4 linked regions of the Homo sapiens genome follow. The protein of the gene in region 2 purifies or fractionates together with the protein of the main gene of each other region. This does not show direct contact. Each region holds a gene or a part of one and is shown on either strand. Other genes may lie near its edges.

Region 1 (7,844 bases), on a different chromosome or scaffold from region 2:
TAAAACAAATGTAAGGGAGACCTAGTCTCTCCCCGGATCAAAGAAGAAAAAGAAAAGTAAAGGTGAAGCAGTATGGTGTACAGTAGTCCTTGGTCACAGACATGAGTTAACAAACTTAGTTTTGTTTTTTTTGTGTGTTTTGTTTTTGCATCTCTTAGAAATTTTGCTCTTTGAAGTGGCCATGTGAGCATAATTACAATTTGTTTTTGTGCTATCGAAAGGGCATATGAGCGATTTTCTTTCATGTGAGACTTGTAATTGAACCAATATATTCTTAGGTAGATTTTCAGTAAGTAGTCATTGGAAAATGCTATATTTTTAGCCTTTAAAAATAAAGTCAAAACCTCAAAATATCTGTTTTAGGAGGGTGTATTCTCTTAGTCTTTTTATTTTTCATTCTAGAATTGGGCAACACCTTATTCTATAAAATAGAACATAGCAAACTTTAAGGTCAAAGAGACGTAGAATTTGATTGTGGGAATTTTGTCAAAAATATCAAGGTTCAAAAAACTTTACCAAAGTAGGATCACAGGTCAATGTGAAATAATAGTCACTTATCTCATCTAGAGTGATAATTAAATGGCTTCAAAAGGCAAATGCAGAAAGTTATATAGTTGTAGAAAAACCTGAGTTCTTTATTAGAGAGTTTTCATAAGTGATCAGATAGAATAAAGACAACATGAAGCACAGGGAATCATCTTGATAAAATGCAGAATCTTTGTTTTTTTAGACCAGTTACCTAATAGGTAAAGGAAAACCTTTCATTATTTCCAAGAAAACTAAATACCACATTTTTATTATCTAATGTCTGGCTGGTTGCTTATACATTTACTGTATATGTAATATGAGACTTATTCATTTTGAGTTTCTGTATGAAGCTTTTCCAATTAAGCAAGAAAATGATCATTTTCCCAGTAGGTTTTGCTTTGGTATGTCAAGAGGGTCATATAACCAGTGTCTGAGGGAAAAAAATTGAAGCTGAAAAATATGTTTTTGGTTATTTCTTTTGATAAGTAAGCATCTTAAAATTTGGATTGCCTACAATCACATGACTAAAATTAATTAAATTAATTACAGTCACCAATTATAAAGCAAGGACAATTGAATATAATCTTAATTTTAAAATAGCTATCATATGTTATTTTTTCCCTTTTTTTTTTTTTTTTTGAGACAGTCTCTCGCTCTGTGGCCCAGGCTGGAGTGCAGTGGCGTGATCTTGACTCACTGCAACCTCTGCCTTCTGGGTTGTGGCGTTTCTCATGCCTCAGCCTCCTGAGTAGCTGGGATTACAGGCATATGCCACCACGCCTGGCTAATTTTTGTATTTTTAGTAGAGATGGGTTTTCCCATGTTGGTCAGGCTGGTCTCAAACTCCTGGCCTCAAGTGATCTGTCCGCCTTGGCTTTTTGGTGTGGGATTACAGGTGTGAGCCACCACGCCTAGCCCTTCTTACTTTTCTTAATGAGTGATACACGAATTTCCTATATCACTTTTACCAGTTATAAGAATTCAAATTTGGTCACAATACTGGTACCAGGTAACTTAGAAGATTCAATTTTCCAAAATTAATTATTTGATATTCTAATTTTTAGGGATTTGGTAATAGATAGTAAGTTTAATGGTATAAGTTTAAAAATTTTATTTTTATAGCAACAATGTGTTATGATAGTGTTAATTTGGTATGATTGTTGTAATTAACACCTATCCGACTTCAGGTGTTAATGGCTAAAAGACTTCCCTTTTCTCATTTGTATATTTTCTAGTATTTCTCTGAAATCTATTAATTTACTATTTGTGGACTTTCTTGCACTATTGACCTGTTGTATTCTAATAAACTTTTATCTACTTTTATAAATAGTACAATTAACACCAAAAGGTGATGAAAATGATAAATAACAGCTTTGGATTTTCTTTATTCTTGTTGTTTTGAGATAGAATTTCACTCTGTTGCCCAGGCTGGAGTGCAGTAGTGCAATCATTGCTCACCGCAGCCTCAAACTTATGAGGTCAAGTGATCCTCCTGCCTTGGCCTCCTAAGGTGCCCCAGGTTTTAAGTTTTCTCTTCCTTATTATTTTTTCAGCTAATTCAACTTTTAAGCTCAGTATCAGTGTTCTGAAACATTTTTGGTAGGTATTCTTTGTGAGAATGACACTTAGCTCCTTTCACCACTCCCAGGGATGATGGAAAGGTGTCTCCTCCACTACTGTATAGATCCTGCAACAAAAGCAGTTTTTGTCCTTTGGAGCTAAAAAGTTAGCAGCTATATTGATATGAAGCCAGTCTTTCAAGAGTAATTGAGTAATCCATCTCGAATGAGGAAATATAAGAAAAAGATTCCTCCAAATGGAATGGGAAAGGAAGAGGGAAGTTGAGAAGTTTTAGGACTGTTTGAGCAAATATGAATGCCTTTTATATATGGCCACAGAAGTAGATTGTGGCTTAGCTCACCTGGTTTTGTCTGTTTTTCTAGTTGATACTAATCATTGTTATTACATTAGTTTCATAGAATTAATTGTGTCCATTCTAGCCACCATATCGTGTGGGCACATCTGACAAAACTGAATGTCTTCATCTTGTTTTCAGCTAATGGTCGAAAGCCATTCAGTAAAACTCACTATTTGGCCTGTTATAATTCACCTAATAAGTTGGTTGGATATTTTGTTTGCTAATTGAACATAAAATGCTGAAGATATTTGCCCATTTCTATTTGTTTAAAGTAAATTTTGTTTTCATGTTGAATTTTCTCTTACTGTGCTTCTTTTATGTGTGAGCACTGTTTTTCTGCATAGTTTTGAACTTCAAGGAGCGGAGTGGTAGAAAATGTGCAAACCCCCAAAATAAGGTCTAGACATTGGATTTTAATTTTTAAATCTCTCCTCTCAGTATCTGATGTTGTTCACTTCTTATATAATGTACAGTCCCTCTATGTCACAATTAATTCTTGATATTTATGTTAAACAAGATAGACTTTTGTTTAAATCTCGGGTACTTGAAGAGTTTTCTCAATTTGATATTAGGGCTACAGAGAGAATTTGTTGAAGTGTTAAGAGAAATACATACTAATTTATATTTTAACCAGAGGTTATCCATGCTCAAGGATTTATTGTGTGCTTAGTGACATGTAATAATCAAGGTCATATAGAGCCCTGAAGTTGAAGTTGCTTGTGTTTCTGTAGTGTGCACATGTATTTGAGACCTTCTTTAATAACCTTCCCAGAAGCTCAGGGCATGCTGACAAAACTCTATGCTTCTCCAGTTTATTTTGTGTTTATTTTATTCTTCAAACAAATGGTAGTTTTTTTGGGAAATGGTCTATATTGTAGCACTGTGCAGTTTTATAAGCCTTTTGGGATTTACTCTTGCCCCTTCTAATACAAGGCAATGTGAATAATTGGAAGAGGTTTAGAGCTGATTTTCTAAAGTGTGTTTTGGTAGAATACTAATTCTGTAGATTGTTAATAGATATTATATGGGATTAAAGGGGTTGTATTGTTAAATAAGTTTGGGAAGTACAGGATTAAATAATATTGAATATGTTTCTTTTGTAGAGGGCTTTTGAGAATTTTTCTTATTGTAGTGTGCTTTGTGAATTCCTAAAAGAGGAATGGATCTACAAAGATTTGAAAAGTCCAGAAACATAGGATAGAACTTATATTTAAGTATATATACCATTGTTCTTGTGTTTACAGAATTTTGGGCATTTTATACTTTTGTTTGCTTTTTTCAGATTAATGATTGGACCCATTGTTAATTTTAAAGGTACCTCTTCTGAAAAGTATCTGAAAGTTGAATAAAAACATTGAGCATATATTTGGAAATGTAACTAACACATTGTTTAAAAATACATTCATCCTATCTTTCTCAGGCTCACTGTATACTGTATAAGGAGGTTTCTCAGTTTTTTTCACTGGAGAGTATTTTTCATATGGATCATTTTCAGGAACTAAAGTTCTGTGTAACCTACTTTGGAAAACATAGATCTGGCTCTAAAATATTCTTCAATTTGGCTATATCATGAAGTGTTCAGTTTTCATAATAGAGAAGAGATATTGCAGAAATTTGCTATGTCATATTCACTGTTAGATTTTGGTTTGATATCATTATCCCAGTTCTGCCAATTACTAGCTCTGTGACTCAGCTTCAGTTTTTGCATCTACAATGGAGATAATAATAGAAGTTAATTAATTTTAAGATGTAGTATTGTAAATTAAATTTGTGTTAATTAAAAAAGTTTTTAAATTTTTTTTAATACCATTATAAATGTAAGGCCAGTCACGGTGGCATACCTTTTGGGAGACCAAAGCGGGAGGATTCATTGAGGCCAGGAGTTTGAGACCAGCCTGGGCAACATAGTGAGACTCTGTCTCTACAAAAAAATTTAAAAATTAGCCAGGCATGGTGGCATGTAGCTGTAGTCCCACCTACTCAGGAGGCTGAAGTGGGCGGATCACTGGAGCCCAGGAGTTCAGTTACAGTGAGCCTTGATTGTGCCACTGCACGTCAGCCTGGGCCACAGAGCAAGACCCTGTATCTAGAAAAATAAATAAGTTTAAAGTGGGAGGGAAATTGGCTAAGGTTATTGCTAAGGAAAATGATATCTTAGAGATTCCTAGAATCATTTAGTTTTAAGGATTGATCACGTTGTTTATTGATTTTGTTAAGCAAAGTATTTTGTAGTAAAGATACTCATTTGTACAAAATATCACAATTTGAGTTTTCTGTCAATGATAATTTTTTTTAAAATGACATTTAAGATGAATGTTTTAAATTATAATAATACCTGTTCACAGTTGAAAATTAAAAACCATGCAGGAGGGTGTAAAAAGCAAAAGCCCCACCACATTCTCTAATCTCAATCCACTAGATGTGTAGAAACCATCCACTATTTAATCTGCCATACTTATTCCCCAGCTGTAACTACTATTAACTGTTTGTAAGAAGTATCTTATGTCAAAGTCTAACTTCTTCTTTTTTTGTTTTTATTTTTTATGGTGGAGCTGTGAGTTCTTTGGAATTGTGAACATTCTTTTGAAATATGGAGCCCAGATAAATGAACTTCATTTGGCATACTGCCTGAAGTACGAGAAGTTTTCGATATTTCGCTACTTTTTGAGGAAAGGTTGCTCATTGGGACCATGGAACCATATATATGAATTTGTAAATCATGCAATTAAAGCACAAGCAAAATATAAGGAGTGGTTGCCACATCTTCTGGTTGCTGGATTTGACCCACTGATTCTACTGTGCAATTCTTGGTAAGAAATTCTACCATAGTCGGGCTTACCCTTTTTGAGTGAATATACTACCTTTAATTTCCTTCAGTTGAGATCCCAGTGTTTGGAGAAGGGTATCTGTGTTTTGACTGTGATGGCTGAATTGGGGTGAAGGAGTTGGTGGCTGCTAATAATGAGATTGAATTTAAGCACAGAGTCCTGGGAAAAGATAAGAGGTGACTGGAAGGAGGTATGAGGGGATAGATGCCAGTGAGCTCTTCTAAGAGGGATATTTCTTCGACTTCTGGGCATTCCTCATGCTTCTCTTAAAATGCCTGTAACAGAAGAAAGAATGCTTGGAGCTGCTTTGGAGATTTCTGTTGTCTATCCCTCAGCCAACCAGACTGAATAGTCCTGCCGTACAGCATCCTGTGTATTTGAAACTTGTCACCCTTAATAAATACTGATTTCTGAAGTATCTGAGACTATAGTTTGTTTACTTCAGGTAGTTCCTCAGAAGGGCAACCCTCAGTGAGAGATTATACAAACGCCGAGTCAGAATTTTTTGGGGGGCAAGAAGAAGACTCTTTCTATTAACCTCCAGCCTTTGCAAAAATTGTTAGTGTCCTAACACAAGTAATTGTAGTAGCGAGAGGACTCTTGGCCTAATAATTCAAGTCAAATGAGAAAATAAAATGGAAGTCTTCAGGAAAATAGAGGACTTGTTATTTTATAGAATTTCAATAAAATATCTAGAAGTCTTCACTTTCGTGTTTCAATTCTTACCCCGTGTGATGTCTGTCCCTAAGGCACTAATTGTCTTCTTAGAAACACTCCTTGTGTTTTTCTACCAAAGCTATTAACTCTGATTCGATATGACTTGCCCAGTACTTTCAGCCTTCATGCTCCTTTCTGGTTTCTAATTTATTTATTTCTGTAACCAAAACATAGAAACTGTCTGATACCTACTGCTGTGGTTTGAATGTGTCTCAAATTTCAGGTGTTGGAAACAGTCCTCAAATTCATTTGTTGATGATATTTGGAGGTGAGATATTTGGGAGGTAATTAGGATTAGATAAGATCATCAAGATGGTGCCCCAGTGATGGGACTGGTGGGTGGCTTTATAAGAAGAGAGACTGGAGCTGATATGCTTTTGTTCTCTCACCGAGTGATGACCTCTGCCATGTTATGACACAGCAAGAAGGCCCTCATCAGATGGGCCCCTTGACTTTGGACTTCCCAGTCTCCAGAACTGTAAGAAATAAATGTACTTTCTTTATAAATTACCCAGTCTCAGGTATTGAGTTATAGCAACAGAGAATGGACTAAGACAGAAATTTGGTACTGAGAAGTGGGGCTGTTGCTCATAACGATTACCTAAGAATATAGAAGTAGCTTTCGAACTAGGTAATGGGTAGAGGCTGGTAAAGTTTGGAAGAACAGTCTAGAAAAAGCCTATATTTCCGTAAATGGAGTGTTAAGGGTGATTCTGGTGAGTGCTCATAAGATGAGAAGACTAGGAAAGTCTCAACCTTCTTAGAGATTATTTAAGTGGTTGTGACCAAAATGTTGATAGAAGTATGGATAGCAAAGGCCATTATGACAAGGTCTCAGATGACAATTAGCAATACCCTGTTGGAAAGTGGAGTAAAGGCCATCCTTGTTATTAATTAGTGAAGAACTGGGATGAACTGTGTCTATGCCTAAGGACTTTATGGAAGGCTGAATTTAAGAGTGATGAACTAGGCTATCTGGTGGGAGAAATAACTAAGTAGCAAAGCATTCAGGCTGCTGCATGGCTACTTGTGGCCACTTATAGAGAGATGTGAGGGCAAAGGAATGACTTAGGACATAATATAATTAGAAGGGAAGAAGAGTAGAAAATTTTGGAAAATTCTCAGCCTGGCTGTGTGGAAAAGAATGAAAGAGAATTTTCAGGAGAGGAACCCAACGTTGTGACTAGCAACCCTTTGCTGAGCAGATTTGTACAAATAGAAGATATCATCAAGACAATTAGAAAAAAACCTTGAAGGCATTCCAGAGATCTTTGAGGCTGTCCCTCCCATCACAGGCCCAGGGCTCTAGGAGGTCAGATTGGTTTTCAGGAGGGTTTGTGGGGTGGTACTAATTCTGTAGGCATGTAGAATGCAAGAGCTGTGGGGGCATGGATTCCTCCACCTAGATTCCAGAGGTTGTTGAAAACAGTCTGGGGGCTCAGGCAAGAGACCTGTCCCAGGAGAAGAGCCACTGCAGAGAGCCTTTCTAGAGCAATGCCCAGTAGAAATATAGGGTTAGAGCTGCCACAAAGTTTCTACCAGGGCAATGCCTAGAGGACCCATGGGAGCAGGGCTGCCATTGAGACCTCAGGACTGTAGAGCTACCAGCATGAAGTGCCATCTTGGGAGAGCTGAAGTCTGAGCAAAGCCATAGGGGCGCCATAGGGGTGGGACTGAGCCTAGCAAAGTCATAGGGGTGGAGCTTCCTGAGGTAGTGGAGGCTCAGCCTCCATCCCAGTTTATCCAGGAAGCCCTGAAGTGGAGTCAGGGAAGATTATCTTGGAGTCTCAAGGTAATCCTCTTGAATTTTGGACTTACTTGGGTCCTATTACTCTTTGCTTCTTGGATATGTC
Region 2 (7,636 bases):
GAGGGAAGAGGTAAAGTAAAATATAAACTGAAATCTAGGCTGAGTGTGGTGGCTCATGCCTGTACTCCCACCACTTTGGGAGACTGAGGCAGGAGTATAGCTTGAAACCAAAAGTTTGAGACCAGCCTGGGCAACAAAGTGAGACCCCATCTTTACTAAATAACTGAGATCCCATCTCTACTAAATAAATAAATTAAAACACAAAAATTCTTAGCTGGGCATGGTGGTGTGCACCTATTGTTCTAGCTGTTTGGGAAGTTGAGGCAGAAGGAGTGCTTGAGCCCAGGAATTTGAGGCTGCAGTGAGCTATGATTGCACGACTGCACTCCAGGCTGGGTAACAGAGGGAGACCCTGTCTCTAAAAAAATGAAAACAACAACAAAAAAACCCAGAACTGAAATCTGTCCATTGGATTTAGCAGGTAGAAGGTTAATAGTGATCTTTCAAGAAAAGAGGAAAGAAAAGGAAGGCAGTCTAGCACTCACTTGAGGTGAGCTAGTCTCCCTGACTAGGTCTCCCGTGAGGAAGCATGCCAGATGGAACCACTCCTTAAGGAGTATTTGTTGATTTTAATGTATTGGTGTTAGCTTTTGTTTTTAAAAACCTTTAAAAGTTGCAGAATGAAAATATAAACATATATAATTTAAATGATGTTTATAAAGCAGATACCTATCTAGCCACTCCCTAGGTCAAACTATAGAATATGACCAGTATCCCACATATATCCCTCTCTGATCAAAATGTCTCTGATCAGAATGTCCCTGGGAGGTGACTGCTGTGGTCATTGTTGCCTTAGTTTTCCCTTTTTTTTTTTTTTTTTTGAGGTGGAGTGTCGCTCTGTTGCCCAGGCTGGAGTGCAGTGGTGTGATCTCAACTCACTGCAACCTCTGCCTCCTGGGTTCAAGCAATTCTCCTGCCTCACTGTCCTGATTAGCTGAGACTACAGGCACGCGCCACCATGCCCAGCTAATTTTGGTATTTTTAGTAGAGATGGGGGTTTCATCATGTTGGCCATAATGGTCTTGATCTCCTGACCTCGTGATCTGCCCTCCTCGGCCTCCCAAAGTGCTGGGATTACAGGCATGATCCACCGCACCCGGCCTAATTTTGTATTTTTATAGGGATGGGGTTTCACCCTGTTGGCCAGGCTGGTCTCAAACTCCTGACTCAGATGATCTGCCTGCCTCGGCCTCCCAAAGTGCTGTTTTTTTTTTTTTTAATTGTCTTTTTGATAATTCCACTATTTTTTTTTTTTTTTGAAAAGTCTCCCATGTCTACCTCTTTCCACACAGACACGGCAACCATCCGATTTCTCAATCTTTTCCCCACCTTTTCCCGCTTTCTAGTCCACAAAACCACCATTGTCATCGTGGCCCGTTCTCAATGAGCTGTTGGGCACACCTCCCAGATGGGGTGGTGGCCGGGCAGAGGGGCTCCTCACTTCCCAGCAGGGGCGGCCGGGCAGAGGCGCCCCTCACCTCCCGGACAGGGCGGCTGGCCGGGCGGGGGGCTGACCCCCCCACCTCCCTCCCGGACGGGGCGGCTGGCCGGGCAGAGGGGCTCCTCACTTCCCAGTAGGGGCGGCCGGGCAGAGGCGCCCCTCACCTCCCGGACGAGGCGGCTGGCCGGGCGGGGGGGGCTGACCCCACCACCTCCCTCCCAGACGGGGCGGCTGGCCGGGTGGGGGGCTGACCCCCCACCTCCCTCCCGGACGGGGCGGCTGGCTGCGTGGGGGGCTGACCCCCCCACCTCCCTCCCGGACAGGGCGGCTGGCCGGGCAGAGGGGCTCCTCACTTCCCAGTAGGGGTGGCTGGGCAGGGGCGCCCCTCACCTCCCGGACGGGGTGGCTGGCCGGGCAGGGGGCTGACCCCCCCACCTCCCTCCTGGAGGGGGCGGCTGCCGGGCGGAGATGCTCCTCACTTCTCAGACGGGGCGGCTGCCGGGCGGAGGGTCTCCTCCCTTCTCAGACGGGGAGGCTGGGCAGAGACCCTCCTCACCTCCCAGACGGGGTCGCGGCCGGGCAGAGGCGCTCCTCACATCCCAGACGGGGCGGCGGGGCAAAGGCGCTCCCCACATCTCAGACGATGAGCGGCCGGGCAGAGACGCTCCTCACTTCCTAGATGGGATGGCGGCCGGGCAGAGACACTCCTCACTTTCCAGACTGGGCAGCCAGGCAGAGGGGCTCCTCACATCCCAGACGATGGGCGGCCAGGCAGAGACGCCCCTCACTTCCCAGACGGGGTGGCGGCCGGGCAGAGGCTGCACTCTGGGCACTTTGGGAGGCCAAGGCAGGCGGCTGGGAGGTGGAGGTTGTAGCAAGCCGAGATCCCGCCACTGCACTCCAGCCTGGGCACCATTGAGCACTGAGTGAACCAGACACCGTCTGCAATCGCGGCACCTCCGGAGGCCGAGGCTGGCGGATCACTCGCGGTTAGGAGCTGGAGACCAGCCCGGCCAACACAGCGAAACCCCGTCTCCACTAACAAAATACGAAAACCAGTCAGGCGTGGCGGCGCGCGCCTGCAATCGCAGGCACTCGGCAGGCTGAGGCAGGAGAGTCAGGCAGGGAGGTTGCAGTGAGCTGAGATGGCAGCAGTACAGTCCAGCTTCGGCTCGGCATCAGAGGGAGACCGTGGAAAGGATAATTCCACTATTACTTGTCTTTTGGGGTTTGTTTTTATTCTCTCTTTGAGTTTTGTTTCCTTATGCGCCCAGTTACTTTTGAAAATGTTCTGGGCAGATTTGCCTAGATTAATAAATGCCCTCCATGTTCCAATTACTTTTTTTTTTTTGAGACAGTGTCTTACCCTGTCACCAAGCTGGAGTGCAGTGGTATGATCTTGGCTCACTGCAACCTCTGCCTCCTGAGTTCAAGTGATTCTCCTGCCTCAGCCTCCCAAGTAGCTGGCATTACAGGCACCTGACACCACGCCCAGCTAATTTTTTTTTTTTTTTTTTTTTTGAGACGGAGTCTCGCTCTGTCACCCAGGCTGGAGTTCAGTGGCATGATCTTGGCTTACTGCAAGCTCTGCCTCCTGGGTTCACCCATTCTCCCGCCTCAGCCTCCCGAGTAGCTGGGACTACAGGTGCCCGCCACTATGCCTGGCTAATTGTTTTTTTTTTTGTATTTTTAGTAGAGATGGGGTTTCACCGTGTTAGCCAGGATGGTCTTGATCTCCGGACCTCGTGATCCACCCGTCTCAGCCTGCCAAAGTGCTGGGATTACAGGCATGAGCCACCGCATCTGGCCTATTTTTGTATTTTTAATGGAGACCGGGTTTCATCATGTTGGCCAGGCTGGTCTTGAACTTGAACTTCTGACCTCAAGTGATCCACCCTTAGCGTCCCAAAGTGCTGGGATTACAGGCATGAGCCACCGTGCCCGGCCCCAGTTATTTTTATTTTTATTTTTTGAGTTAGAGTCTCACTCTGTCACCCAGGCTGGAGCGCAGTGGCATGATCTCGGCTCACAGCAACTTTCTGGGTTCAAGCAGTTCTCCTGTGTCAGCCTCCTGAGTAGCTGGGACTACAGGCACACATCACCACGCCCGGCTAATTTTTGTAGTTTTAGTAGAGACGGGGTTTTACCATATTGGTCAGGCTGATATTGAACTCCTGACCTCAGGTGATCCACCCACGTCAGCCTCCCAAAGTGCCGGGATTACAGGCTTGAGCCATCTCGCCCGGCCTACTTAGATGTTATATTAGTGGTAATTCCTGTTATCCTGTGAGCTCTTTAGTGTCTAAACAATTTTTTTTAAGAGATGGGGTCTCACTGTGTTGCCCAGTTGCAATCATATCTTACTGCAGCCTCAAACTCCTGGGTCAAGTGATCCTCTTGCCTTAGTCTCCCAAGTAGCTAGGACCATAGGTGTCTGCCCCCACGCCTGGCTGTTTTTACATTTTTTGTAGAGATGTGGCGGGTGGGGGGGTCTCACTGTGTTGCCCAGACTGGTCTCGAACTCCTGTCCTCAATTGATCCTGCTACCTCAGCCTCCCAAAATGCTGAATTACAGGCATGAGCCACTGTACCTGGTCTTAAACAATTTTAAAATAACATTTTTATCCAGGATTTTAGTTAATTTTCAACAGGTGGATTAGTTCTTGCTGTATTCTCGTAAACAGAAGTCCTGGTTTATTTTTATTTGTTTTAAACATTGAATCCCATACTCCTCCCCACCTTACCCTACCCAGAATTTAGACTGTTAATGTTTTGAAGCCACAGCCTGCATCTTAATCACTATTTTATCTTAGTGCCTGGTCTTAGAAATTATATTGACTCTTTGATAGACCATATATAAGGCAGGTGGATGAGAATGTGGGTAGCTAGTTGGAAAAGGCTGCTTGGTCATTTGCTTGATTATTTTCTCACACAGTTTTTCCTTTACTAAGAGAAAATGCCCCCATATTGGCAAACAAAATCTCCCTGCCTGAGAGCGCCCAGAGTATAGCAGAGCATCTTACCCTGATACGCCTCTTTTCACTCTCTTCTCTGTGGAGACAGAAGGAGCTTCAAGAGCAGGGGGAGATCAGAATCGTCCAGCTGGGCTTCGACTTGGATGCCCATGGAATTATCTTCACTGAGGACTACAGGACCAGAGTATGTGACTGTGTGCGTCAGGGGTGCTGGGGGGAGGGCACAGGTTGGGGGAGACAGGGAACTTGGGAAACAGAAATAAAAACAAAAGAAAGAATTTCCCTGCCCCCACATCCCATGGAGAGGGCACAGGGCCCTGGTAAATAGTAATATGAGGGAGAGAGACAGGAGGGAAAGAGGGAGGAGTGAGAGGGTAAAGAGGGGGGGAGAGGAGGGGGAGGAGGAGGAAGGAAGGAGGGGGAGGAGGAGGGGGGGAGGAAGAGGGGGAGGAGGATGAAGAGGAGGAGGAAGAAGAAGGGTATGAGAGGTGGAAGGATCTGAGCAAGAGGTAAGACAGGAAGAGAAATGCTGTCCTGGGGGTGGAGGTTGGTAGAGAGTGAGGGTGGGGATGGACCATGTCTCTCATCTCTGCTTGTAGGTCCTCAAGGCCTGTGATGGCCGACCGTATGCTGGGGCAGTGCAGAAATTTCTAGCTTCAGTACTTCCAGCCTGTGGGGACCTTAGTTTCCAGCAGGACCAAATGACACAGACCTTTGGCTTCAGGGACTCAGAAATCACGTGAGACTTGTGGAACCAACCAAAGTCAGGCATCTGGTGCTTCCCTGCCTCCCTCCAGTTCCATCCAGCCTGTCCTCCTGTTTTTTTGGTGAACCTGCCAGAAAAGCTGCCAAAAAGCTGACTCTTCTTGTTAATAAAATGACCCAAGTTTGTATTCCTCCCCACAAGAGAGGAGGCCTATCTTACCTGGGCCTTAGAAAGAGCCCTGAAATAGAATTCAGTTCTTGGTGGCTTATCAAAAGCACACAGGGGCCTGGCAGGAAGTGTAAAAGCTTGATGTTAATCATACTGGGACTAAGAGGATAGAGAATGGTAGGAGCTGGGATACCCCTAAACATTCACATTAAAACAAAAAAAACCCAAAGCTAAAAAACAACTGGGCAGGAGCTAAATAAAAATCTAATTTTGAGAGGCTGTATCTGGCTCAGGCCTCCTACTTTGTAACCCATGGAATATGTGAAAGCATTTGAAAAACTATAGCACTGATCTCACATGGGCAGACACACTCTCAGAGAGATGTGGTGGGAGCCATGGCGCAGTCTGCCTAGGCAGTGGCAGGAGCGCAGAAGACTCTGATTCCTCTCCTCGGTCCTAAGACCGAATGTGTGTCAGGACATGTGGTCAGGGAAGAGAAGCTATTTAACTGAACCAGTAATAGTAGCAGGAAAAGAAAAAGTGGAGGGAGGGCAGTCCAGGTAGGGGGCCTGGAACAAGCAACTGCACCAACAGAGGCAGTTGGTGCGAGCACAGAACCACCCCAGGCTGGGATTTTGTTATCCAGTCTCTCTTGCATGGTTGCCCGTGTTTCTGGAGACTTGTGTAAACATTAATGGATGAGGAGGAGAGATGGTTCTCAGAGCCCAGCCCTCATCTCTGCTGGCTTCCCACTGCCCTCAGGCATCTGGTGAATGCTGGAGTCCTCACCGTCCGAGATGCTGGGAGCTGGTGGCTAGCTGTGCCTGGAGCTGGGAGATTCATCAAGTACTTTGTTAAAGGTATCCCATCTGCAGCTCAAGCCTGCAGCCCCTCACCTTTTGGTGGCTCCTCAGGCCTCTAGGCCTTATTCACCTTTCCCCTTTCCTGTGCCACTTCTCCTCTAGGGCGCCAGGCTGTCCTTAGCATGGTCCGGAAGGCAAAGTACCGGGAACTGCTCCTATCAGAGCTCCTGGGCCGGCGGGCGCCTGTCGTGGTGCGGCTTGGCCTCACCTACCATGTGCACGACCTCATTGGGGCCCAGCTAGTGGACTGGTGAGTCTTTCCCTGGCCTCTGGCAGATTATGGAGCAATGACCCAAAGTGGGATTTCCTCCCAGCTCATGCTTAGTTTCCTAGTGAAGGCCAGTGGCTCTCATTCTTCTCTGGAACCCGGGAGCACCCCTTCCCAAGTTCTAAGTTCTCCTCACAGCTTGAGCCTAGGCGTCTGGCTCCAGCCTTGTCTTTCTCCTGCACAGCATCTCTACCACTTCAGGAACCCTCCTCCGCCTGCCAGAGACATGAAGATTCTGCTCATCATTGCTCAGCTCCTCAGAGTGGGCCGGGAGGGGACTAGAAGAGCTGCATGATGGTGGCTGAGACAGGGTCACCTTGGGAAGGCTTGGGAGCCAGGATGAGTGTCGGGCTCTCGTGTGTGCAAAAGGTCAGATGTGACTGCTGCTGTTTGCCTGGTTTCTGACCCAGTGGTGGGGTTTGAGCAATGCTTCTCTGCCCTTCCATGGAAAGTGGAACCAGAAATGGTGCCAAGGCTGTGGCTGTTCCCTTTCGTGTAAAATGGTGCTGTTATTACTCTGTCTTGAAATAGGAAGGTGGGATTTCTGGGGAGGCTGGTGAAGGAGGGCAGGGTTCTTTTCTCTACGTGTCATGTTAAAATTGCCAAATAAAGTACCTCTGCCTGTGATATTTTCTGGATGTCCTTTATTTACTGTGACGTGTGTTTGGGTGCCTTGTTTAGGGGTAGAGGTGAAGTCTGAGCTTTGCCTCATTCAGAGAGGAAAGGGGTCAGGGGTTCACTCTGACGTTCAGGCCATTCTCCCTGTGGAGTGGTGAGGGTGTACCTAATCTCCTAAACCACGGAATTTCTGTTAGGGCCTAAAAAAGCAAAAGCCTAGTATAGTTCAATTTGTGTTGGAATGAAAGTAAGAGACAAGTGTCTTAGAAGCCTGTCATTGTTTTGTGAGGGCCTTTAAATATCCTGTACTCGTGGGCCATGTTGGGCCCTTGTACGCCCAGGTATACATGAGCTTGTGTGCACCTATACCCTGATACAGATATACCTGGTAGGGGGAGGTGCTCAGGCACTGGAATGAGAGGAGTTAACGGGGAAGGACAGGGTTATTTCTGGGCCAAGATTCAGAGTTTCCCATGGACACCCAGGTGTCCGGGGTGCCCCCACAACTCTGGGCCTGAGGCCAGTTGCACTTCTTGGCTGTCACGTGGTTTCCCAGCTTAGCTGGGCTGGGGGAGGAGCAAGGTCCAGAGTCAACTC
Region 3 (7,844 bases), on a different chromosome or scaffold from region 2:
TGCCTTTATATGTTTATGCCCTAGGGGCTTTAAAGGAGCCTGAACCACTGACATTGGTGATGTGAATGTCTCTTCATTTTCCAGGATTGCTTTGGAATGACATTATATATATATATATATATTTATTTATTTATTTATTATACTTTAAGTTCTAGGGTACATGTGCACAATGTGCAGGTTTGTTACATATGTATACATGTGCCATGTTGGTATGGGATCTAATTAAACTAAAGAGCTTCTGCACAGCAAAAGAAACTACCATTAGAGTGAACAGGCAGCCTACAGAATGGGAGAAAATTTTTGCAATCTACTCATCTGACAAAGGGCTAATATCCAGAATCTACAAAGAACGCAAACAAATTTACAAGAAAAACAACAACCCCATCAACAAGTGAATGACGTTCATGAAACCAAGGTCAAGGACCTTCCAGTGTAGGCAGGAAGCATCTGTTCCTACCTCTGCCTATGCCTCATGCATAGAGGATATGAAAGAGTAGGAAAAGCTGCTCTTTAGAGTAACTCGGGCCTCAGCTCGAATGCTGGATCTGTCCCCTTGCTTCCTGCTGTCCCTAGCCAAGTTCCTTCACCTCTCTGGGCCTCAGTTTCCTCTTCTGTAAAATAAGAATAATAACAGTACCTACCAAAAGTTGTTGGAAAAGTGTATGTATTCAGTGGGCGCTTAATAAGTGGAAACTTATGATTAAGAATGTCATTGTCTGTATCCTTTTGCCTTTGACCTCAAGAGCTATAAGGGAAGAAACATGACTGAACCAGAAGCAAATCCATCGTCTCTTTTTTAGATAAATCCATTGTCTCTTTTTTACAGGCATGAGCCACCATGCCTGGCTAATTTTTTTATTTATAGTGGAGACAGGGTTTCACTATGTTGGCCAGGCTGGTCTCAAACTCCCGGCCTCAGGTGATCTGCCTGCCTCAGCCTCCCGAAGTGTTTGGATTACAGGCATGAGCCACCACACCCAGCTGTCTGTCTGTCTGTCTGCCTCTATATCTATATCTATGTCTATATCTATCTATTTATCTATCTATCTATCGAGAGAATGGAAAACTGAACAGCAGACCAGAGCTAAATTTATCAATATGGATAAATCTCTCAAACAAAGAGGAGTAGAAAAAGTAATTTGCTGCCGGGCGTGGTGGCTCACGCCTGTAATCCCAGCACTTTGGGAGGCTATGGTGGGTGGATCACCTGAGGTCAGGAATTTGAGACTAGCCTGACCAACATGGAGAAACCCTGTCTCTACTAAAAATACAAAATTAGCCAGGTGTGGTGGTGCCTCAACCCGGGAGGTTGAGGCAGGAGAATCACTGAATCCGGGAGGCAGAGGTTGCGGTGAGCTGAGATTGCGCCATTGCACTCCAGCCTGGGCAACAAGAGAAAAAAAAAATAGAAAAAGTAATTTGCGGAAGGATGTGTACAGTGTGGTACTCTTTATTTAAAGTTTGCAGTGCAAAACGATATTGTATGTTTCCAATGTATGCATACAGGATAAAGGAAAATGAAAAAAAAAGCATGCATAGGACTGGGTAGGCACTGAATTCAAGGGAATGGTCACCTGTGGGTTGGAGTTGGGAGGAAGAATGAGCTGGGGCTTCAATCGCATCTTTCTTCTTTCTTTCAAAAACTTTAAACAACTATGGAAAAATCAAGATTTGACAGAGCCACTGGATGGGTGCTCATATTTAAATATGCTTTAAATATTTCATGATTCAAAAAGAGAGAGTGAACTACAGAATTCACCCTGGAATCATGACAGATCATCTCTGTCTGGGAAAGATAGTTCTTCCCTACTGATGACTTCAAGTTTTTTCTCTTTCCTCTTCTCTCCCCAGGCTCTCTTTAAACTGTGGGGCTCCCCAGACAAGTATCCCAAAGACATCCTGACATACACTGAATTAGTGTTGGACTCTCAGGGCCAGCTGGTGGAGATGAACCGACTTCCTGGTGGAAATGAGGTAATAGCTCAGCGGAGCCTAACCCCTGGCTGGAGTCACCCCCTTAAAAATATTTTTGGGCCAGGTGCAGTAGCTCACACCTGTAATCCCAGTGCTTTGGGAGGCCAAGGTGGGTGGATCACTTGAGGTCAGAAGTTCAAGACCAGCCTGGGCTACATGGTGAGAACCTGTCTCTACATAAAATTTTAAAATTAGCTGTGTGTGGTGGTGTGCTCCTATAGTCCCAGCTACTCGAGAGACTGAGGCAGGAGTGATTGCTTAAGCCCAGAAAGTTGAGGCTGCAATGAGCTGTGATTGCACCACTGCACTCTGGCCTGCGCAACAGAGCAAGACCCTGTATCTAAAAAAAATAATAATAACTAAAATAAAATAAAAAGTTTTCCCCCAAAGAAACAAACTCATTTTCCTTGTGCATTCATCCCCTTGCCAGGTGGGCATGGTGGCCTTCAAAATGAGGTTTAAGACCCAGGAGTACCCGGAAGGACGGGATGTGATCGTCATCGGCAATGACATCACCTTTCGCATTGGATCCTTTGGCCCTGGAGAGGACCTTCTGTACCTGCGGGCATCCGAGATGGCCCGGGCAGAGGGCATTCCCAAAATTTACGTGGCAGCCAACAGTGGCGCCCGTATTGGCATGGCAGAGGAGATCAAACACATGTTCCACGTGGCTTGGGTGGACCCAGAAGACCCCCACAAAGTACGTCGTGAAACTGGCGGGGCAGGGTGATTCTGCTCAGCTACTACTGTATTTTCAGTGGGAGTGCTAGCACCTGCAAGAGGTGAAAAAAATCTCACTTATGTATAAAGCACAGATGTACATGTAGTGTATAAACAGGCATACAGTGTATCAGTGATACTAACATTTCACTGTGGCGGGGGGGATGGTGATGAGAAAAAAAAGATCTAAAAAGGCTCCTTAACGGGGATAATGAAAAAAGTCTATAAACCCTGAGCTGATATACACTGAGCGCTCCTGAATGCAGTGTGCACTGAGAATGCAGAGGTGATTGTGTCAACTCCCTGGCCTCATAGCGTTCTTAGAATTATGGCTCACACCTGTCATCCCAGCAACTCAGGAGGCTTGGGTGGGAGGATAGCTTGAAGCCAGGAATTCATGACCAAGCTAGGTAACCTAGGCAGCATAGCCAGACTTCGTCTCTACTAATGAAAAAACTAGGTGAGCATGATGGTGCCTGCCTGTAGTCAGCCTCAGCTACTTGGGAAGTTGAAGTGGGAGGATCACTTGGAGCCCAGGAGTTCAAGGCTGCAGTGAGCCATGATCATCATACCACTGCACTCCAGACTGGGCAACTGAGTGAGACCCCCCATCTCAAAAAAAAAGAAAAATCTTTGGGGAGTTGTATAGATACCAGCTTGCCATAAAAGGCAAGATGAATGAGGGAAGCGCACGCATTCTGTGATGTGAAATGACAGGGGACAGTCATCCTTTCCATTCAGAGCATGCATTCTCGGGGGCGATATTGCCCACTACCCCCAAGAAGACAGAAAAATAATTTTTGGGGTGGCAATAAAATAGTTTTTAACATATATACATATACAGAGTATGTAAATAGTGGTTAAACAGTGTATCTTGAAAATTAAAATTTCATGTTGGGGTGCTGGCAATAAGAAATAAAAATGAGATAGTCCTTAGAGGAGAGCTTAGCTCAAAGCAGAACTTCAGTTTATGGCTGTTATTAATACGGTATTTACATGAGATGTGTTAATGTGTCATTGACATGTTACTAACATGTTATTAACATCCATCCCTACGATGTTCACATTAAGAAAAAAAAAACAGTGGCTTTCAGTGCAGGGAACTGGATTCGTAGCCTCACTAAAGTATTTTTTAAGGGATTTAAATACCTGTACCTGACTCCCCAAGACTACACCAGAATCAGCTCCCTGAACTCCGTCCACTGTAAACACATCGAGGAAGGAGGAGAGTCCAGGTAAATAACTTATCAGGTAGCTCCTTAATTTTGCTCATGGTTAATTTCAGCTGTCTTCTTTCCTCGGGGCTTGTGGCGATATTTTCCAGTGGGGTGGTGGTGTTTGTATGATGGGAACCAATGCCTGTTGGGGGCACTGATGCCTTAAACATTTGTTAAACTCTCCAAGGTGAGTCCATCCTTGTCATTCTAAAATGAGTGACTCCTTTCACAAAAAATAGCACGTCATGTAGGGAGAATGAGATTGGATTCTCGTGAATCTCCTAGGAGCCGCAGGCTCACATTTTGTGACCAAACTGATGCAGCGGTGACTTGGCAAACTGGGAAGGTATGGGTGGGGCAGAGAGAGGTCTGTTCTTCGAGAGCATTCAAAGGCTACTATCTTTTCCAGGACAAGTTATGTTTTTCTCAGTGGGATTAACTGACTCAGGATTTCCTAGACTGGGTTTTTTGCAATGTTAGTGACAAGCTGGGGGGAAATTCCATAGTCAGATGAGTTTGGGAAACACTGGGTTAAATGAGATCTCATAAACATCTTTATTGCAGACCTTCTTAGTACCTGTAGCATGCTGTATTAGTCAGCGTTCTCCAGAGGGACAGGACTAGTAGGATATATGTATATATGAAAGGGACTTTATTAAGGAGAATTGACTCACATGATCATAAGGTGAAGTCCCATGATAGGCTGTCTGCAAGCTGAGGAGCAAGGAAGCCAGTAGTGGCTCGGTCTGAGTCTAAAAGCCTCAAAAGTAGGGAAGCCAATAGTGCAGCCTTCAGTGGCCAAAGGCCTGAGGGCCCCTGGCAAACCACTGGCGTGAGTCCAAGAGTCCAAAGGCCGAAGAACCTGGAGTCTGATGTTTGAGGGCAGGAAGCTTCCAGCATGTGAGAAAGATGAAAGCCAGAAGACTCAGCAAGGCAGCTTACTCCACCTTCTTTCACCTGCTTTTTCTAGCCGCGCTGGCAGCTGGATGACTGGATGGTGCGCACCCACATTGAGGATGGGTCTTCCTCTCCCAGTCCACTGACTCAAATGTTAATCTCCTCTAGCAACACCCTCAAAGACACACCCAGAAACAGTACTTTGCATCCTAAAGTTGACACTTAATATTAACCATCACACATGCTAAAGTGCATTGTGAATCTCTAACAGAGGCTGGCGGGACAGTGTTTCTCATTATGTGGCCCTGGAATTTTTGATTGATTGATTGTGAATGGGTTTCCTCTGTGTACCCCCATCTCTCTGTAGACCGTTGGAGGAATATGGGCCGAGGGTGATATTTCACTGAGACAGCCCCTGAACAGGCAGATATCTTTGGTTGTATAAACCAAAAAGTATCTGAGACAGGTCTCAATCAATTGAGAAGTTTATTTTGCCAAGGTTAGGGACACATCCAGAAGCAAAGAACACGGAATCATAGAAACCGTCTGTGGCGTGTACCTTTCTTCAAAGATGATTTGGAGGGCTTCAGTATTTAAAGGAGAAAAGCAGGCTGGAGGGGAAAGAGGGAAGTTCTGGTAATCACATGTTGCAGGAGAAAAGGCGCAGGCAGGGGAAGTCAGTTATGTATTCTTCCTGCGCTCAGTAAGTCAGCACTTTCTATAAGATAAGGTGGACATAGAGGAACTACCTGTGGAGATATTTCAGCTTTTATCTGTATCTATCTGCTTACTAAAGAAACAAAAGGAAAGGCAGCTTGCACAACTCAGCTTCAGCTTAAATTGTTCCTTTTGGCATTGTGAATCGTGGTCCTAGTTTTTATTTTCCTTTCACAGATGGGAGCAGTGTGATGATTTATTTATTTATTTGAGACAGAATCCCGCTCTGTCACCCAGGCTGGAGTGCAGTGGTGTAATCTTGGCTCACTGCAACCTCCACTTCCCAGGTTCAAGCGATTCTTCTGCCTCAGCTTCCCAAGTAGCTGGGATTACAGGCGTGCACCACCACGCCCAGCTAACTTTTGTATTTTTAGTAGAGATGGGGTTTCGCCATATTGGCCAGGCTGGTCTCAAACTCCTGACCTCAAGTAATCTGCCCGCCTCGTCCTCCCAAACTGCTGGGATTACAGAGCAGGGTGATGATTGTTGATGCTGCACTTGCCCTTTTAGAAATCTTAGCACTCATTTTGAGGGTTCTAGATGCCAATTTCATTTTGCCTCTGGATGCTTTGTCTGCTTCCAATCTCTCACCTTGCTGCCCAGTCAGTCCCTTCTTGGGAAATGCATCCACCTTGGATTTTTTGGGGCTAGAGCCCAGCCTTTAACCTGTGCTTGCTTTTGAAGATACATGATCACGGATATCATCGGGAAGGATGATGGCTTGGGCGTGGAGAATCTGAGGGGCTCAGGCATGATTGCTGGGGAGTCCTCTCTGGCTTACGAAGAGATCGTCACCATTAGCTTGGTGAGTCTTCTTCTATTTTCTCTTACTTTTCAACTTTCCATTATAGAAACTTTAAAATTGTCACAAAATTAGAGAGAATCAATAATAAGCCCCATGTGCCCGTCACATACCTCCTACAGTTACCACATGCCAGCCCACTGATATTTCCTCAATCTCACCCCCATCCCCTGCACCTGTTTTAGAGTATTTTAAAGCCAGCCCCCATCATGTCTTTTCATCCATAAATACGTAAGGGTAGATCTTTAACAGATAATGACTCTCACCCTCTTCCCCCGGTTTTTAAAAACATAACTGAAATACTAATATTACACCCAACAGAATCAGCAATATCATTGAAACCCAGTGTGGTTTAACAGTTATCTCAAAATACCCTTTTCTAGTGGTTTGTTTGAATCAGGGTCCAATCTCATCTTATTTTCAAGGTACTGAATGTTTAGAAGAACTTTTCTCTGACTTTAACTGGCATATAAGGAGTAGTCCCCATCCCATCCCCATGGCCTTTCCAAAAATGTTTTCTGTTTCTAGTAGTAGTACTACTGTAGTAGTAGTAGTAGTACTAGTAGTAATTCTAGTACTAGCAGTGGTGGTAGTAGTGGTGGTGGTAGTAGTAGTAGTGGTAGTAGTGTTTGTGGTGGTGAATCTGTATGGGTCTAAGGCAGAGTGAGAGACCGAGGCAAGTCTCTCAGCAGGAGTGAAAGTTTATTAAAAAGTTTTAAAGCAAGAATGAAATGAAGTACACTTGGAAGAGGGCCAAACAAGGCAACCTGAGAGATCCAAGTGCCTCATCCAACCCTTTTGAGGTTTTATGCATTGGCATGATTCCAGGGTTTGTGTTTCTTCTCCCCTGATTCTTCCCTTGGGGTGGGCTGTCTGCATGCACGTGGTCTGCCAGCACTTAGGAGGGGCCGCATGAACAGTGTGTTTACTGAAGTTGTGTGCATGCTCACTTGAGGCTTTCCTCCTTTACCAGTCGAGTGTTCCTAGAAGAAGGGCACGGTACCAGATAAACTCTGCCATCTTACCTCTTAGCATGCATGCTTGAGCCCACCCACCCAGCTCCTGAGATCTTATGGGGAAGCTGCTTATCACTAGCTTCAGGTGTTTTCTATCTATCAGGAGATTGCCTTTCCCTGGAGCCAGCTGTGACCAATATTAATTTTAGAGAGACACTTTAGCAACTGCCTAACTATCACCTGATGGTTGCCTTCCTCTCCTGCCCTGCTCATGTCTGCTTAACTACCTACTCTAACAGCAGCAGCAGCAGGAATAATAGTACTCTTTAATGATAAACTGCCTTGGAAGGCCTTATTTGTACATGCAATGTTGAATCTTCAGTTTCCAAGTGGAAAATGTTGGTCATAAGCATCTTCCTTGGGCTTGTTTTCTAGATTATATGTATAGTCTTTTTATTTTGAAGTCATCTAGGACCCACCGTAAGTTATAAGATACTACAGAGAATTTCCAAGTACCCTTCACCCAGCTTCCCCTATGGTACTTACATAACCGTAGTACAT
Region 4 (7,844 bases), on a different chromosome or scaffold from region 2:
AAGAACAAAAAACACATGATTATCTCACAGATGCAGAAAAAAGCATTTGACAATATTAAATACCCTTCATGATAAAAACACTCAAAAAATTAGAAGTAGAAAGGAACTTCCTCAACCTTCAAGAGAATGTCCAAAAAAAAAAAAAAAACACACACCAGTTAACATCATGCTTAATGGTGAAGAATGAATGCTTTCTCCTTAAGATTAGGAACAAGACAAGGATGTCCACTCTTATTTTTTTTTTTTTTTTTTTTTTGAGACAGAGTCTCACTCTGTCACCCAGGCTGGAGTGCAGTAGCACGATCTCGGCTCACTACAGGCTCCGCCTCCCGGGTTCACGGCATTCTCCTGCCTCAGCCTCCCGAGTAGCTGGGACTACAGGCACCCGCCACCACACCCGGCTAATTTTTTTGTATTTTTAGTAAAGACAGGGTTTCACCGTGTTAGCCAGGATGGTCTCTATCTCCTGACCTCGTGATATGCCCACCTCGGCCTCCCAAAGTGCTGGGATCACAGGCGTGAGCCACCGCACCCGGCCAAGGATGTCCACTCTTACCACTTCTACTTAACACTGTACTACAGGTTCTAAGCAGAGCAATTAGCAAGAAAAAGAAATAAAAGGCATCCAGATTAGAAAGGAATAAGTAAAACTGCCTCTATTTGCAGAAGACATGATTGTGTATATAGAAAATCCAAAGAAATACACACATACACACACACCCCCTATTCAAGCTAATACACAACCTCAGCAAAGCAGTATACAAGATCAACATATGAAAATCAATTGTATCTCTATACATTTGCAAAGAATCCAAATAGGAAATTAACAAGATAATTCCATTCTAAATAGCATCACAAAGAGTAAAATATTTTGTTTTGTTTTGAGACGGAGTCTTGCTCTGTCACCCAGGCTGGAGTCTGCAACCTCCGCCTCCTGGATTCAAGCGATTCTCCTGCCTCAGCCTTCTGAGTAGCTGGGATTACAGGCATGCACCACAACACCTGGCTAATTTTTGTATTTTTAGTAGAGACAGGGTTTCACTATGTTAGCCAGGCTAGTCTCGAACTTGTGACCTCAGGTGATCCCCCTGCCTTGGCCTCCCCAAGTGCTAGGATTACAGGCGTGAGCCACTGCACCTGGCCAGAGTGAAATATTTTAGGTATAAGTTTAACAAAAGAAGTGCAAGACAGGTATGCTGCAAATTACAAAATATTGCTGAGACAAAGTATAGAGCTACATAAACAGAGAAACATTCCATCTACGTGGAGTGGAAGACTCAATATGTTAGGATGTAAATTCTCACCAAATTCATCTACAGACTCAATGCAGTTCCTATCAAATCTCAGCAGGCATTTTTGTAGAGTTAAGAGCTGATCGGGCTGGGTGCGGTGGCTCACGCTTGTAATCCCAGCATTTTCAGAGGCCGAGGCGGGTGGATCACCTGAGATCAGGTGTTCAAGACCAGCCTGACTAACATGGTGAAACCCTATCTCCACTAAAAATACAAAAATTAGCTAGGTGTGCTGGCACGTGACTGTAATCCCAGCTACTCGGGAGGCTGAGGCAGGAGAATCGCTTGAACCCAGGAGGTGGAGGTTGCAGTGAGCTGAGATCATGCCACTGTGCTCCAGCCTGGGCTACAAAGCGAGACTACATCTAAAAAAAAAAAAAAAAACCAAGTTGGAGGATTTTACACAACTTCAAAACTCCTATAAACTACAGTAATCAAGACAGTGTGGTTCTATTTTAAGGACAGACATAGAACAATGGAAGAACTGAGAGTTCAGAAACAAACCCTTACATTTATGATCAACTGATATTTTTATCAATGTGTCAAGACAATTCAATGGGGAAAGAATAGTTATGTCAATTAATGGTGGGAGACAAGAGTGATGTTAGACTCTTCTGTCACACCATATACAAAAATTAACTCAAAATGGATCACAGACCTACTATAAGAAAGCTGGCTGGGCTCTCTTATATGTACTTGTGTATGTAGATATATATATATATATATACATATATATATATATATATATATATATATATATATCTACACACACACACACACACACGCACACACACACACACTAGCCAGGTTTGGTGGCAGGCACCCATAATCCCTGAGATAGCGCCATTGCACTCCATCCTGGGCGACAAGAGTGAAACTCCATCTCAAAAAAAAAAAAAAAAAAAGAGCCAAACCTACAAAAAAAACTCCATGAAGAAAACAAAATCTTCATGACTTTGTATTACAAGTTTTTACATATGACAATAGAAGCATGACCCACAAAAGAAAACTTGATAAACTGGACTTCAAAATTAAAAACTTCTCCACCTCAAAAGCCACCAGAGGCTGGGCACATCGGCTCATGCCAGTAACACCAGCACTCTAGGAAGCCGAGGTAGGAGGACAGTTTAAGTCCAGAAGTTTGAGAACAGCCTGGGCAACATAGTGGGACCCTCACCTCTACAAATAATGAAAAAAAATTGCCAGATGTGGTAGCATGTGCCTGTGGTCTCAGCTACTCAGGAGGATGAGGCAGGAGGACTGCCTGACCCCGGGAAGTCCAGGCTGCAGTGAGCCATGATTACACCACTACACTTCAGCCTGGGTGACAGAGTGAGACCCTAGCTCAAAAAAAAAGCCACCACAGGCTTGGGGCAGTGGCTTGTAATCCCTGCACTTCGGGATGCCGAGGCAGATCGCTTGAGACCAGGAGTTCAAGACCAGGCTGGGCAATGTAGTAAGACCCCATCTCTACACACAAAAGAAATTTTTCAAAAATTAGCTGGGTGTACTAGTGTGTGCCTATAGTCCTAGCTACTCCGTAGGCTAAGGCAGGAGGATTGCTTGAGCCCAGAGTTCAAGGCTGCAGTGAGCTGTGATTGCACTAACGCACTCTAGCCCAGGCAACAGAGCAAGACCCTGTCTCTAAAAAATAAAATAAAAATAGGCTGAGTGTGCTGGCTCACGCCTGTAACCCCAGCACTTTTAGAGGCCAAGGGAGGCAGATCACCTGAGCTCAGGAGTTCAAGACCAGCCTGGGCAACATGGTGAAACCCTATCTCTACTAAAAATACAAAGAAATTAGCTGGACGTGGTGGCATGCACCTGTAATCCCAGCTACTTGGGTGACTGAGGCACGAGAATCACTTGAACCCAGGAAGTGGAGGTTGCAGTGAGCTAAGATCACACCACTGAACTCCAGCCTGGAGGACAGGGTGAGGCTGTCTCAAAAAATAAAAAATAAAAATAAAAATAAAGCTACCACTAAGAAAGAAAAGACAAGCCACAGACTGGGAGAAAATACTTACAAATCATATATATGATAAAGGACTTGTATCCAGAATATATGAAGAACTCTTACAACTCAAAAACCCAATTACGAGATGGACAAAAGATCTGAATAGACATTTCAGCAAAGAAGGTTTACAAATGACTAATATGTACATAAAGATGCTCAACATGATTAGTCATCTGAGAAATGCAAACTAGAACTACAGTGAGATACCATTACACACCACTAAAATGGCTATAGTCAAAAAGACTGGACCAGGCACAGTGGCTCACGCCTGTAATTCCAACACTTTGGGAGGTTGAGGCAGGAGGATCGCTTGACCCCAGGAGGTCGAGGCTGCAGTGAGCTGTGATCATGCCACTGTACTCCAGCCTGAACAACAGAGTGAGACCCTGTCTCAAAAAAAGACTGGCTGGGTGCGGTGGCTCACGCCTGTAATCCCAGCACTTTGGGAGGCCAAGGCAGATGGATCGTTTGAAGTCAGGAGTTCAAGACCAGCCTGGCCAACATGGTGAAACCCTGTCTCCACTAAAAATACCAAAATTAGCCAGCCATGGTGGCACATGCCTGTAATCCCAGCTGCTCGGGAGGCAGAGGCAGGGCAATCACTTGAACCTGGGAGGCAGAGGTTACAGTGAGCCCAGACTGCACCATAGCACTCCAGCCTGGGCCACAGAGTGAGACTCCATCTCAAAAAAAAAAAAAAACCAAGGCTGGGCATGGTGGTGGCTCACACCTGTAATCCCAGCACTTTGGGAGGCTGAGGTGGGCAGATCACGAGGTCAGGAGATCGAGACCATCCTAGCTAACATGGTGAAACCCAGTCTCTACTAAAAATACAAAAAATTAGCCGGGCGTGATGGCAGGTGCCTGTAGTCCCAGCTACTCGGGAGGCTCAGGCAGGAGAATGGCGTGAACCCAGGAGGTGGAGCTTGCAGTGAGCCGAGATCGCACCACTGCACTCCAGCCTGGGCGACAGGGCAAGACTCTGTCTCAAAAAAAAAAAAACAAAAAAAGACTGACAATACCAAGTATCAACAAAGATATGGAGAACCTGCAACCCTGAACACATTGCTCATGGTAATGTAAATGGTTTAGTTGTTTTGGAAAACCATCTGGCAATTTCTTAAAAAGTTATAAACAAGCTTATCATAAAACCTACAATCCCACTCTTAGGTACCTATCTATCCAAGGGTTATGAAAACATATATCCACACAAAGTAATACACAAATGTTCACAGTAGCATTTACTCATGATAGCCAGGAACCAGAAACAATCCAAATATCCTTCAACTGGTAAATGATGAAAATACATAAAATATTCAATAGATATTATTCACCAATAAAAAGGAACAAACTGATACATATTACAATATAAATGAACCTCAAAAAACATGGTGCTTAGTGAAAGGAGTCAGATGGAAAAATTTGTAAAATAAGAAAGTTGGGTGAGGAATTGACTGTGGTTAGGTGGGAACTGACTGCAAACAGGCAAGAAGGTATTTTTGGAGTGAGTGGCAGGTTTGAAAACTAGATTATGGCTGTACAACTCTAAAAATTAATTTAAAATTACTGAATTATATTTTCACAATGGGTGGATTTTATGGTTTGTAAATTATATCTCAATAAAGCTACTTTTCTTTTTTGAGATGGAGTCTCGCTCTGTCACCCAGGCTGGAGTGCAGTGGCATGATCTCAGTTCACTGCAACCTCCACCTCTCAGGTTCGAGCAATTCCCTGCCTCAGCCTCCCGAGTAGCTGGGATTACAGGCGCTCGCCATCACGCCCGCCTAATTTTTGTATTTTTAGTAGAGACAGGGTTTCACCATCTTGGCCAGGCTGGTCTTGAACTCCTGACCTAGTGATCCACCCACCTCGGCCTCCCAAAGTGCTGGGATCACAGGCATGAGCCACCGTGCCCGGCCCTATTAAGCATTAAGCTCTTTTTTTTTTTTTTTTTTTTTGAGACGGAGTCTTGCTCTGTCGCCCAGGCTAGAGCGCGGTGGCGCAATCTTGGCTGACTGCAAGCTCTGCCTCCCGGGTTCATGCCGTTCTCCTGCCTCAGCCTCCCAAGTAGCTGGGACTACAGGCGCCCGCCACCACACCTGGCTAATTTTTTGTTTTTTTTTAGTAGAGATGGGGTTTCACCGTGTTAGCCAGGACGGTCTTGATCTCCTGACCTCGTGATCCACCTGCCTCGGCCTCCCAAAGTGCTGGGATCATAGGTGTGAGCCACCACACCTGGCCAAAGCTATTTTTTAAAATATCAAGATCATGGAGAACAAAGACAGGAACTGCTCCAGATCAAAAAAGATTAAAAAGAGATAACATCTAAAGTCAATGCTTTATTCTGGATTGGATCCTGGCCAGGAGGAACATATATATATATACATATATACACACACACATATATATGAGAGACAGAGACAGAAAGAGCGAGAGCGCGCACATAGAAAGTGCACACATGCCCAGAGCACACACTATAAAGGACTTAAGTCCTGAATAAGGATAATGAATTAGAATAACATCGATGAATCGATGTTAAATTTCCTGATTTTTATTACTGTATTCTGGTTATTTAAGAGAATATCTTTATTCTTTAGAAATACCCAATGAAGAACTTAGGAGGTAAAGAAGACATAGTATCTCCAATTTATTCTCAAATATTTCAGAAAAATGTAACATGCAAATATGTATATATGGAGAGAGAATAACAGAACAAATGGAGAAAATGTAAACAACTGGTGAATCTGGGAAAAGGACATATAGGAGTTCCCATACTATTCTTGTCATTTTTCTGTGAAGTTTGAATTTTTTTTTTTTTTTTGAGACAGAGTCTTGCTCTGTCACCCAGGTTGGAGTGCAATGGCACAATCTTGGCTCACTGTAACCTCTGTCTCCCAGGTTCAAGCAGTTGTCCCACCTCAGCCTCCTGAGTAGTTGGGATTACAGGCATGTGCCACCATGCCCAGCTAATTTTTGTATTTTTAATAGAGACAGGATTTCACCATGTTGGCCAGGCTGGTCTTGAACTCCTGACGTCAAGAGATCTACCTGCCTTGGCCTCCCAAAGTGCTGAGACTGCAGGTGTGAGCCACCGTGCCCAGGCTGAAGTTTGAAATTTTATCAAAATAAAAAGTTACCAAAAAATAACACAGGCAGGAATAAGTGAGTGGAGGTATCAATATGACAAGCAGCATTAGTAAGCAATTAATTAAGCAATGAAGATCTGAAAGTAAAGACTAGCCCTTGAAAACAAAAATTAAAAGCCAGGCGTGGTGACTCACTCCTGTAATCCCAGCACTTTGGGAGGCAAACGCAGGCCAATCGCTTGAGTCCAGAAGTTCAAGATAAGCCTGCGCAGCATGGCAAAACCCCGCCTCTATAAAAAAAATACAAAAAAAAATTCACCGGATGTGGTGGTGCATGCCTGTGGTGCCAGCTATTCAGGAGACTGAGGTGGGATGATCGCTTGAGCCCAGGAGGCTGAGGTTGCAGTGAGCAGAGATCATGCCACTGCATTCCAGCCTGGCCAACCAAGACACTGTCTCTAAATAAATAAATATTAAAAAAAAAAAAAAAAACCAGCTGGGCGCGGTGGCTCACACCTGTAATCCCAGCACTTTAGGAGGCCGAGGTGGGCGGATCACAAGGTCAGGAGTTCGAGACCAACCTGGCTAATATGGTGAAACCCCGTCTCTACTAAAAATACAAAAATTAGCTGGGCGTGGTGGCAGACGCCTATAGTCCCAGCCACTCGGGAGGCTGAGGCAGGAGAATCACTTGAGCCCAGGAGGCAGAGGTTGAAGTGAGCCGAGATCGGGCCACTGCACTCCAACCTGGGAGACAGAGCCAGACTCTGTCTCAAAAAAAAAAAAAAAAAACCTCCTCCAGACCCATAAAGATGTATTCAACTAGATGATATTCTAAAATCCAGTCAAGCTCTAAAATGTGGTGGTTTATCACCACGTCTCTGAGGGCCGCTCTTTTGTTTCTAAACAGGAATGACTTCCAGGCCTAAACTGCTTAGGCCAAGCCATCCACAGAAGTAAGCCTGCAGAGCAGGGATGATAAGAGTGGCTGGCCTGATTAAAAACAATGTCTGCCTGTCTCCTTCCTTTCTTCTCCCTGGAAATGTTGCCAGTTTCTGTCTGCAGTATCTCTCTCCCTCATCCCAGCCTCTTACTGTATCTCTCACAAATATACTTTATACTTCACATAACACATTATTTTATGTTTCTTTTCATTTCTTTCTCTCATAATTTCAGTCTGTAAATAAGCAAAGAGATATCAGTAATGAGGTTCGCCAAATGTTTCTGAATGGTAGGATCTGGGGTGATTTCATTCTTCTTTGCACTGTGGCTTGGACTTTATTTAATAATCCTGTAGTGTTTTAACTAAAAAATAAAAAAGGTGCTACATTTTTTAAAACTTCTAATTCAAGCACATCAGTTCATTTTAACTTTTCATATTTCCTCTCCCTTGCTTTCAAAAAAAGAAAAACATTTTCAAGTGCTTTTCCCTTATGAACGATCTTTAAC

Evidence for each region.
Region 1: the proteins of WHR1 (region 2) and ASB3 purify together in Homo sapiens (affinity purification with mass spectrometry, with the first as the bait; one large-scale study listed by BioGRID). This does not show direct contact.
Region 3: the proteins of WHR1 (region 2) and ACACB purify together in Homo sapiens (affinity purification with mass spectrometry; one large-scale study listed by BioGRID and IntAct). This does not show direct contact.
Region 4: the proteins of WHR1 (region 2) and PCCB purify together in Homo sapiens (affinity purification with mass spectrometry; one large-scale study listed by BioGRID and IntAct). This does not show direct contact.

The regions. Positions count from the first base shown.
Region 1 is NC_000002.12:53,697,683-53,705,526, reverse strand, and holds part of ASB3 (ankyrin repeat and SOCS box protein 3), read left to right. Parts: intron 1-4,998; coding exon 4,999-5,256; intron 5,257-7,844. Other genes in the region: GPR75-ASB3 protein, read left to right, coding at 4,999-5,256. UniProt on the Homo sapiens protein: Probable substrate-recognition component of a SCF-like ECS (Elongin-Cullin-SOCS-box protein) E3 ubiquitin-protein ligase complex which mediates the ubiquitination and subsequent proteasomal degradation of target proteins. Recognizes TNFRSF1B.
Region 2 is NC_000006.12:31,974,399-31,982,034, forward strand, and holds the end of WHR1 (winged helix repair factor 1), read left to right. Parts: intron 1-4,504; coding exon 4,505-4,600; coding exon of another isoform or gene 4,601-4,612; intron 4,613-5,015; coding exon 5,016-5,155; intron 5,156-6,052; coding exon 6,053-6,150; intron 6,151-6,255; coding exon 6,256-6,403; intron 6,404-6,605; coding exon 6,606-6,651; 3' UTR 6,652-7,048; downstream 7,049-7,636. UniProt on the Homo sapiens protein: DNA-binding protein which is required for efficient transcription-coupled nucleotide excision repair (TC-NER). Acts as part of a TC-NER complex which assembles and interacts with RNA polymerase II (RNAPII) when it stalls at DNA lesions.
Region 3 is NC_000012.12:109,243,775-109,251,618, forward strand, and holds part of ACACB (acetyl-CoA carboxylase 2), read left to right. Parts: intron 1-1,851; coding exon 1,852-1,974; intron 1,975-2,404; coding exon 2,405-2,674; intron 2,675-3,831; coding exon 3,832-3,929; intron 3,930-6,209; coding exon 6,210-6,330; intron 6,331-7,844. UniProt on the Homo sapiens protein: Mitochondrial enzyme that catalyzes the carboxylation of acetyl-CoA to malonyl-CoA and plays a central role in fatty acid metabolism.
Region 4 is NC_000003.12:136,262,298-136,270,141, reverse strand, and holds part of PCCB (propionyl-CoA carboxylase beta chain, mitochondrial isoform 1 precursor), read right to left. Parts: intron 1-7,844. UniProt on the Homo sapiens protein: This is one of the 2 subunits of the biotin-dependent propionyl-CoA carboxylase (PCC), a mitochondrial enzyme involved in the catabolism of odd chain fatty acids, branched-chain amino acids isoleucine, threonine, methionine, and valine and other metabolites.